Linked DNA regions of Homo sapiens: region 1 is linked to region 2. The links come from fine-mapping of genetic effects on gene expression. A gene starts in region 2. The other region holds a variant in brackets. All regions are shown on one strand. Distances are between the middles of the regions. Region 1 has its middle 34 kb from the start of MAP3K9. Region 2 holds the start of MAP3K9-DT (MAP3K9 divergent transcript).

Evidence for each region. PIP is the estimated chance that this variant, and not a neighbour inherited with it, causes the effect.
Region 1: its variant is the best candidate, but not a certain one, in a credible set for the expression of MAP3K9-DT in prefrontal cortex (BrainSeq, PIP 0.56).

Annotation. Positions count from the first base shown.
Region 1 is chr14:70,840,690-70,846,061 of GRCh38, reverse strand. No RefSeq gene overlaps it. Among named protein-coding and RNA genes, the nearest start is that of MAP3K9, 34 kb to the right of the region's middle. The variant G/T (reference allele first, on the strand shown) is at 3,116.
Region 2 is chr14:70,806,135-70,811,506 of GRCh38, reverse strand. It overlaps MAP3K9-DT (MAP3K9 divergent transcript), which reads right to left and starts at 2,723. Exons shown (of 2, transcript NR_184164.1): 1 at 2,220-2,723. MAP3K9 (mitogen-activated protein kinase kinase kinase 9) reads left to right here and starts at 1,994. Exons shown (of 12, transcript NM_001284230.2): 1 at 1,994-2,741. The coding sequence starts at 2,336. RefSeq lists a silencer at 1,793-2,432 and an enhancer at 3,373-3,432.

The DNA of each region.
Region 1 (5,372 bases), 35 kb before region 2:
TTCTCTTTTGAACATGTTCTCTACTTAGTGTCCTAGTTTCTACATTGGATAAATTCTTTGTTTCAGCCAGCTCTCAATGAAAAGACTATGACTACAGCACCATTGCTTCAGACAAGCAGCATTGGAATAGTCCAGCTTGTTCACTTCTTCTTTAAGAGACAGAGTCTCACTCTGTTACCCATGCTGGAGTGCAGTGGTGTAATCATGGCTCACTGCAGCCTCACTCTCCTAGGTTCAAGTGATCCTCCTCCTCAGCTTCACAAGTAGCTGGAACCACAAGTGCACCCGACCGTGTCTGGCTAATATTTCATTTTTTTGTAGCACAAGTTCTCCCTATGTTGCCCAGGCTAGTCTCTAACTCCTGGCCTCAAGCCATCCTCCTGCCTCAGCCTCTCAAAGTGCTGGGATTACAGGCCACTGTGCTGGTCTCTTGCTCATTTTTTTACACTTCCTCATGTGTTTCCTCATCAGCTTCTTTAAGTATCATAATTTCTTTCATGTCTCCAAAAATCATATTTAAATATTTATCATAAGCCTGGTCCATGCTGCCAATGTCTAAACCTTCTAATATTTTCCTTTCCTTTCTTTTCTATCCCCTCTTCCTCAGGAGCCTGGCTTCATTATACCACTGGCCATTGTGTTTAAATTAAGGACAAAAGACACAAGTTGGCCACTCTGGTAAAGATGAGAAGAAGCAAGAGGGAGAAGGAGGCAGAGACGTGATAATTCTTCATCTCACATTCGTATATAATGTCAGTGGTTCTTGGGAACTTTAAGCAGCTTTTCCTTGTTACCCAACTAGAAGGTAGCAGACCTAGAAGTTGAGCCTGGGTCAGTGAGGCTCCAAACCCCCTGCTGTTTCCATTACATCACACTACTTTCCATAGCAGCAAAATCCCATTAAACACAGGTATTGGGTAAAAATGATGGGCTGACTTTGTGTGAATAGATGGAATCATGAAGAGTTCACTAAATAGGTCTGCATGTGTGACTTTGGAAAGAAGGCAGACTAAATGAAGGAACTTTCTTCAGATCATCAACACTGTGAATGACAAAGCTTTGCTCTGTATCATGCTGGAAGTTTTGGGACCATGCTAGATGTTTTGAGAACACACGAAACATCCTATAAGACTGCACTCAAGGGACTTATAGTCTAGGTGAAGGAAAAAATCAGGCGTAGAGCACACACAAACTAGATAATTAAGGTGAGTTTAAGGGACTAATTTATTTATAAAGATGTGGGTGGGCCAGGCACAGTGGCTCACGCCTATAATCCCAGCACTTTGGGAGGCTGAGGTGGGTGGATCACAAGGTCAGGAGTTTGAGACCAGCCTGGCCAATATGGTGAAACCCCCTCTCTACTAAAAATACAAAAAATTAGCCAGGCGTGGTGGCTGGTGCCAGCACTCGGGAGACTGAGGCAGGAGAATCACTTGAACCTGGGAGGTGGAGGTTGCAGTGAGCCGAGATCACACCACTGTACTCCAGCCTGGGCGACAGAGCAAGACTCCATCACACACACACACACACACACACACACACACACACAAAGATGTGGGTGAGGTTTAGGGAATTGGAAGAGAAAAATGCAGTACCCTGGGTTCTAGCAACAGTAGGGTTTGGTTACCCATGCCTCCAAAACATGCAGGGGAAAGGGGAAGGAACAGAGCATAGCTGCATGAAGAGGGAGGGACACACCCCTCTTTCAGGAGCTGTGATCTTCAGTAAAGGGAAGCAACCAACCCATGGTGACCCATCAGGGAGGGAGCCATAGTAATAAATACCCCAATCTCAACTTCTCCGCTCTTCAATCTCCTGGTGATTCTTCCTGTTAGCTAACCCCAACCAGAAGCTAGAGGGCGAGCATTGATTCCATCTGAAAAGACCAGTCCCGTAGTTACAGCAAGAAATGAGAAGAGGTAGAAATGAATCTGAAAGGGCAATTTTATAAACTTTAATTTGTAAGATAAATTAAAAGGTAGCTTTATAAATTGATACACCATTTAAGTGTATTGTGAAGGTTGCAAATTACAAGAGTATTCCTGTAAATCATTTTGTGAAACATACCTTCATGCATTTTCAATTCACTGTATCCTTTATTTTATTTTTTAATAGATGGAGCCTCGCTCTGTTGCTCAGAGTAGAGTACAGTGTCTGTTCACAGGTGTAATTACGGTTAACTGCAGCCTTAAACTCCTGGGCCCAAGGAATCCTCCCACCTCAGTCTTCCAAGTAGCTAGGACTACAGGTATGTGCCACTATGCCTGGCCACAGCATCATTTTAATATATCCTGATGTTCTCTTATGGGTTAGTTTCATGTAAAAATTGCCCAAATTAAATGTTGAGATAGACTGGCTTCCTGGCTTACCCAAAGTGAGCCAGGGTAAGCTCACTTACCTTTAGCCAGAGGTGAGCTAAAACCTGAATTGAGCACATTTCAGTTGCATTGTATAGGCAATGTTTTTGCTCATTTTTTTTCCATTGCATAACTTTATTCCACTCTCTGAGATGTTTCTCCATGCCCTTTTCCATCATTTTTTCATATCTCCCTTGCTTCCATTTTTACTCTCTCCTTCTTTCCTCCAATAAAAAGGGCTTCTTGGCTCACACCTCCATCAACAGACGCTTGGAAATAACGCACCATGGCAGGTTTTCAAATATTTTTTCTTTCCTCCCTCCAGAGAGAAAAACAAAAGGGTAAAGATGGCTTGAGGGATTGGATCAGAACATTGTTTTACTGGAATTTGCAGCTGTTTCTGGATTGCAGAAGTCACTGGAGGGAAACAATGTGCTCAGGGACTGAAGGAAATGGTTTGGCTCCAATCTGTCCCAAGTCATCAGGGGAGGAATTTTTTCATTGTTACAAAGGTTGTTACTCCATAAAGATTTTGCATCTCTCTACAGAGAGTGTGTGTCTGAGGAGAGGCATGGGAAATTCACATAGGATGGGAGCAAAAAAAGGCCAAGGTAAAATGCTAGTGAAAGGCAAAGGCAGAAAATAACTGACCTTTGGTCAGGACACAGTCCATTTTCTGGGTTCTGGCCTAGACATGCAGCTCATGAAAGATTCAGACTTTATTTCTTATAGTCTAAGAGCTAGGTGAGCCAATGAGA[G/T]TTTCCTTTTTTACCAAGCAGGCAAAATGAAGATGGGCTTTATATAGACAGGTGGATCCAGTAATAAATGAATGAGAGACTCATTTGGCTTCTCATTGATGAAAAGCTGGATTTATGTGCTTAAGTACTGCTGGCTCTGTATCTATAGGGAACAAATAAATCTGTACACACCTTTGCACTTCTATGTATGCATTACTGGTACTGTTTGAAGAGGCCTCTGGAACTGTGTGTTTTCCTTCCAGGGTGCTCTTCCTTCCATGCATCCTGTCATCTCTATGGAAGGAGCCTGTAGAACACCTGCAGTTAGGCAGAGATCAGGCTAGGTGGGCAACTGTGGTCTCCTACCCACCTACCAACACTCATTCCCGCTCCTCTTGGTAGATGTTCCTGTTTACTTTTAGGTTCACATATATTCTTCTTTCTTTTTTTTTTTTTTTTTAAGAAAGTTAGTGTATGGATTGAAAGCTGTCCCTACCAAAAGATGTTGACATACCAACCCCCAGTACCTATGAAGGTGGCTTTATTTGAAAATGGGGTCTTTTCAGATGATCAAGTTAAGATGAGGTCACTAGGGCAGGCTGTAACTCAGTGTGACTGATGTCCTTTTAAAAAGAGGAAATTTGGCCGGGTGCGGTGGCTCACGCCTGTAATCCCAACACGTTGGGAGGCCGAGGTGGGCGGATCACGAGGTCAGGAGATCGAGACCATCCTGGTTAACATGGTAAAACCCCATCTCTACTAAAAAAAATACAAAAAAATTAGCCGGGTGTGGTGGTGGGCTACTCAGGAGGCTGAGGCAGGAGAATTGCTTGAACCCGGGAGGCGGAGGTTGCAGTGAGCCAAGATTGCGCCACTGCACTCCAGCCTGGGGGACAGAGCGAGACTCCGTCTCAAAAAAAAAAAAAAAAAGAGGAAATTTAGACAGAGACAGACATGCATGGAGAGAGTACAATGTGAAAACATAGGGAAAAGACAGTCATCTACAAACCAAGGAATACCTGAGGCTACAGAAGCAAGGAGAGAGACGAGGAACAGATTCTCCCTCACAGTCCTCAGAAGGGACCAACCCCACCAACACTTTGATTTCAGACTTTCAGCCTCCAGAACTGTGAAGCACATTTCTGTTGTTTAAGCCACCAGTTTGTGGTACTGTGTTTTGGCAGTATACAGTTAAGTTTGATAAAAATCTTCTGGTACAATCTTGTTTCTCCCAATGACGAAACTGAAGTTCAACAAATAAAATGACTTACGCAGTTGTGGATGCGGTTGGTGGACAGGACTCTAAATTCCCAGATCATTCCTCTATCCATTGCTATAACTGGTGTGATTTGGATAAATCACAATATCAGGCTTCTACCATTGGGTCCAGAGGATGGAGCAGTGTCACTCCTATCTTGTAATATACACACTACTAGACTTTAACAGTTTAAGACAAGACTTTGGCATTATTAATGTGGAGTGGGTATGCTTCTCCTGTACTTTCAGTGTTAATGGGCTTTGCTTACGCTCACCGGCTCATCTTTTTGGTTTTTTGTTTGTTTGTTTGTTTGTTTAGAGAGAGTCTAGCTGTGTCACCCAGGCTGGAGTGCAGTGGCACGATCTCGGCTCACTGCAACCTCCGCCTCCCGGGTTCAAGCAATTCTCTGTCTCAGCCTCCCGAGTAGCTGGGACTATAGGCGCACGCCACCATGCCTGGCTAATTTTTGTATTTTTAGTAGAGACAGGGTTTTGCCATGTTGGCCAGACTGGTCTTGAACTCTTGATCTAAGGTGATCCACCCACTTCAGCCTCCCAAAGTGCTGAGATTACAAACTCGAGCCACTGCGCCCAGCCTCACTGGCTCATCTTTTAAAAAGCCATAGGAGCTTGAAGAGATTGCTAGCTAGGTTACATAGCCAAGTTACACCTTATATGTAAAAAGAGCTGGGGCACTTATTGGGAAAGTCAAGGACAATTTCATCTACATCTGGTCACTTCTCTTACAAAAATCTGAAGTTCTGATAAAGCTATTGGAGCTCCCTGGGCCAGGCAAAGTTGTGACAGGTGAGAGGTGCAGAGTGTGTCCTACTTGCAAGCTGTTGGTGACAGAGAGCTTCTCTGCTCCTCTGTCTTCACAGCTATAAAATAACTGGTTGCCATCTTTAGAGAAGGAAAGAACTTAGTCTGCCTGCCTGCTATGGTTTGAATGTTTGTCCTCTCCAAAACTCATGTGGAAATTCAATTGCCAATGTAATGATATTGGGAGGTGGAGCCTTTA
Region 2 (5,372 bases):
CCCTTGCTCTCTGCTGCTTGACAGTGGAATGGTTTTGTCTAAAACAAAACCTAGATAATTTACTCAGACTCATCCATATCTTTTCCAGTTCATGGATCCTATGTATAATAGGAATCTGAGCATTGTTTTAGGTCTTTACTTAAACAGAAATCCTTTTTCAAGACCTACTCTGGATGCTTTTTAGAACAAGCCTCATCTCTCTTCTTCAAGACCTCAAATGTGTGCTATGACTATACAGTGTAGTCATATTGATGAGCGAACCACAGAATGTTCAAACTATGAGGACACAGGATATCTTCCAGTTCACTCCCCTCACTTTAAGAGTACAGTGTTAGGACACCTGCCTGAAGTCATGCAGCTGCCTAGTTATCTTTCCAAATTGCCCCGCTGTCTTTAGTTTGTGTAATAATAAACCCCAAACTAAAATTCAACAAAAGCACTCACCCTTGCTAAATAAATCATGTCTATTCCTACCACTGAAGGGGAAAAGGTAACAAAGTTTGGTAGAAGTTGGGCTAGATCCTTCAGCACTGGCTTATTTAGAAATTTCAGAGGACTAGGTGAGGTGGCTAAGGCCTGTAATCCTAGCACTTTGGGAGGCCGAGGCAGGTGGATGACTTCAGCCCAGAGTTCAAGACGAGCCTGTACTTCCAGCTACTCGGGAGGGTGAGGTGGGAGGATGGCTTGAGCCTAGGATGTTGAGGCTGCAGTGAGCCGAGATTGCGCCACTGCACTCTGGCCTGGACAACAAACTGAGACCCTGGAAGAAAAGAAAAGAAAAGAAAGGAAAAGAAAAGAAAAGAAAAGAAAAGAGAAAAAAAGATCAGAGAACCTTTCTTACTGGAAGTCAACGTTGCCACGACAGGATTAAAGCAAGAAGAAACATTATGGGCCTCCTATCTCGTCCTTAATGTTCAAAACGCAGGGTATAGCAAAGCATATAGGAAGAGGTCGTCCTCACTCGTGAACTCAGCATCGGGTTCTACGTTTATTCTGCTTTGGTTCTTCTTAATCTGACCTCTATAGACTTCGCCACGATCCAAGGTGTAATTCCAACAGGCAAAAGAAGTCTAAGGATTGTCGAAAAGGTGGCTCCCTTCAGACAGACCAAGCCCAATTCATGGCAGCGTTCCCAGCCCCAGTTTGAAGCTCAGTAAGGTGGTCTCTTGCCTTTCTGAATTCTGAAAAAAGAGTGGTATTGGAATCTCTTCTTACCGGAACCCAGGAGAGGGCGAGCTGTGGTGCAGTCCTCATAAAGGGGAGAACTGTAGTTTTCAGAGTTCTAATGAACATCCCAATGGGCCTAAAAGGCTTCAATAAGAGATGAAAGGTTCCGGGTGAGAGTGGGCGTGGGCGAAGCTGATCCCTCTAGGTCGGACTAAGGCAGAGCCAGATCCAAGAGGGAGAATCCAACTGTAAAAGGGATCTGGGGAAGAAAGAGCTCTGTTGGGGGTGCAGCCGGATGAAGAACACCGGTGCTGCTCAGTGCAGCCCCTACCCATCCATGGCAAACAAAGGCAGCTGCCTCCCTTCCAGCCTTTTAGTTTGAATGAAGGCTCAGTATTACCTTTTAGGATCCACCCTTCCCTTCTCACGCACCCAATGAGGCCGGAGCCTCTTCCTGCCGGGAGGTGCTGAACTCTCCCAGGAAACGGACAGGTGCCGCGAGCCAATGGAGGGAGCTGCGGCGGGCCAGTGGGCGGGAAGAGTGGGTCGACCTGGGTTTGAGAATGACAGAGCCCGCAATGGGGGAGGGCACGGTGCGACGGCGGCGCAGGGGGTGAGAGGGACCTGCGAGACGGCCAGCTAGGCTGCCCCAACCACGGCGGAGGAACCGGGGACTGGGCGGCCGCAGCCAATGGGAAGGCAGCGGGCGCGGGGCGGGGCGGGCGTGGGGCGGAGCCCCCTGGGGTCCGCAGGGCTGGGGCGGAGCCAGGCCCGCGTCAGGTGGTCCCGGCGAGCTGGCGGTGCGGGGGGCGGGGCACGGCACGGCGCGGAGAGGAGAGCGGCGGCCGGCTGGCAGCGGCGGGCACCGGCTGCGCGAGCAGGTACCGGCGGCAGAGGTGACGAGGCCGCCCCCGGGGGGGCGAGCGGGCAGGCGGGGACTCGGCCCGCTGCGCCCCTAGGCTGCGCGAAGAGCTCGCGCTCGGCGCTCTTCTCGTACCGCGGTAACAGCGCCGGCGAGCCGGCTCTCCCAGCCCTGCCAGCCCGGGCCCTACCTGCGGCCGCCGTCGTTGGGGGGGGGTCCTCCCAGCTCTGCGGAGGCGCATGAACAATAGGCGGCGGCGGCTCCTGCGGGCGGCGGCGGCCCCGCACCCTATGGATCGGCCGCTCCATGGAGCCCTCCAGAGCGCTTCTCGGCTGCCTAGCGAGCGCCGCCGCTGCCGCCCCGCCGGGGGAGGATGGAGCAGGGGCCGGGGCCGAGGAGGAGGAGGAGGAGGAGGAGGAGGCGGCGGCGGCGGTGGGCCCCGGGGAGCTGGGCTGCGACGCGCCGCTGCCCTACTGGACGGCCGTGTTCGAGTACGAGGCGGCGGGCGAGGACGAGCTGACCCTGCGGCTGGGCGACGTGGTGGAGGTGCTGTCCAAGGACTCGCAGGTGTCCGGCGACGAGGGCTGGTGGACCGGGCAGCTGAACCAGCGGGTGGGCATCTTCCCCAGCAACTACGTGACCCCGCGCAGCGCCTTCTCCAGCCGCTGCCAGCCCGGCGGCGAGGACCCCAGTTGCTACCCGCCCATTCAGTGTAAGGCGAAGGCGGGGCCGGGCGGGGAGGGGGAATGACGGAGGCCTGGGGGGCGGTCGGGGAAGGGGGGAGCACTGCGCGAGGGCTGGGATGAGGGCGGGGGGTGGGGAGGACGATTGACCTGGGTGTGGGTGGCGCGCGCTTAGGCTGCCCGGGCTTTGCTTGCTGGATAAGCTCGAGACGCCTCAGGCCCTGCCCGCACTTCAGACGCTTGGGCTTCTTCACCTTCAGTTGGCCACCTCAGCAGTGGCTCCCGATTTCCACATCCTGAAGTCCCAGTCTGAGAATTTGCCAGTTTCCCAGTCCCTTCTCTTACCCACCCCCCCGCCGCCCCCCATTCCCAATCTGGAAGTGTTTATGGCAAGATGGTGGTTAGTGTCCTAGCCTTAGTCCCCAAATCAGGGACCTTGCCACCACCTCTTCTAACGCCTGTCCCCGCCTCCTAAAGGCATTTGCTTTCAAAGAGATGGGGGTGTCTCCGCAGGGCTGAGCTGGCTCACAAGTCCCGGAAGCATGTGTGAACTCAAGGCTCAGTTGCCTGTAAAATGTCGGGTTGATTTCTTGGATCCTATTTCTTATATCTCAGAAGTTGTACCTTTAGGAGTCTCACTGATTAATGTGCTAAGAGGGATGTGTGTGTTGAGAGTGGGGGTGAGACAAGTGATGATTAGAGAGGAAAAAGTATGTCGTTCCCCCATGGGAGATCAGGATTGCAAGGTACAGTGGCTGAATCCCAGTCCTTTGACAGTGAGGCTGTTTGGGAAATACATTTTCTTCTTTCTTCTCATTCTAGATCCTTGCCTATCTTTGGAACTGGTCAAATCTCAGGGGGACCATGCTCAGGGGTCCCTCCCAGGGCCTTTCTCCCAGTGTCCTGGTTTCCGTCAATTTTCCAGGAGCCCCATATTTCATACCCTATAATGAAATCTTCTTTTTTTTTCAAGGGAGTTAAATTGCCATCACAATCCCTTAATCATACTAGTTTATTTCAGAAAAAAACATGTAAATATCTCTTTAGTGCAGTTTACACTATTTTGTATTTGAGAGTTTCCATAATCTCTTATCTGTTAAAAAGGTATTGTTAATATGTATTAATTACTGTTTATTCCTTATTTTGTATACTTTCATCTTAGTTGATTTTTTAAAACGTCATTAGCAAGGACCAACTTTAAATATTTAAATATTAAGATTTCCTTTGTAACAGTTACGTTTTTGGCTCTGTAAGTTATTTTTTACCCCAGCAATTGTGTTACTTTAATCTTGAGTTTTTTTGTTTTTTTGAGACAGTCTCGTTGTCTCCCAGGTTGGAGTTCAGTGGTGCAATCTCAGCTCACTGCAACCTCTGCCTCCCGGGTTCAAGCAATTCTCCTGCCTCAGCCTCCTGAGTAGCTGGGATTACAGGCGCCCGCCACCATGCCTGGCTAATTTTTGCATTTTTAGTAGAGATGAGGTTCACCATATTGGCCAAACTGGTCTCGAACTCCTGACCTCAAGTGATCCGCACGCCTCGGCCTTCCAAAGTGTTGGATTACAGGCGTGAGCCACCGTGTCTGGCCTATCTTTAGATGTTTTTTAAAAACTAGCACATAATATCAAAATCATAGCCTCTTCGCTTGTTTTTCTGCTCTTCTTTTTCTGTTGGTGTTTTGACTATCAAATCGATGTTCAAATCTTTAGGTTCCCCCTCTCCCTCTCATTCAGTTTAAAACTTCATTTTTCTTCATTTTGATCTTTAAAATGCCTGGAGGTAGCAAATTACTTTAAATTGTTTCCAGATACTACATCTTTTTGGGACTAGTTTGGTAGCCTTAAGGCTAAGCATCCTGGCATAGTGTTTTGAAAGTGTTGAAAATGAACTTGGTCATATATTGGAAGAAATATGAATAGCCTGGCATGTTAGAAAACAGTGTCATTTTAAACATAAGTCAGATTTTGATTCTGTGGGTGAAGTTTTGTGATTTTGTTTTCAGGGACAGCTAATGTCAAAGCAGAAGAGCTAGGTGAGGTTCGTGATCAGGAACTCGGTTTCTTCAATATCTTGTGCTCTGGCTGCTAGAGCAGTCAAGAGTCAGTATGACTTAGGCTGAAAAACTGTCCACAGAGCTAGGCATGGCAACAGCGTGCTACTTTTTCATTTGGTGGCCAGGACTTATCTTCATTGTCATACAAGTTATCTTGGATAGAGTGGATTCCTAAATCTGGAACCCAGATGTTGAGAAAGTAGGAAGTAACTTGTTCTAATGGAAAGAATTAACTTGAAGAATATGGCATTTGAAAGACCTGACACGTTCTTTTATTTGGCCTCACTAGGAGTTCTGATCTTGACTAGAATTAATTTTTGATAATTCAGAAAATTTAGTTTCAGTCAAAAACTAATTATTGAGTACCTAGTGAGTGATAGATACTGTACACTGTGTTAAGTACCAGGACATAAAGAAGTGATAAGATCAGAAGTTGCTTATAAGTTACATGAGGGAGATTAAGTATGTAAATATAAAACTTCAGTGCAGTGCCTTGGTTCATCAGAGGGTGAACATGGGCGGTCATTGAAGTCTATGTGCTCTACCAGATCAGTTTGTGTCACTCGGAAAGTGAAGACGATTGACAAACCTTGTCTCCGAAGACTTGGAA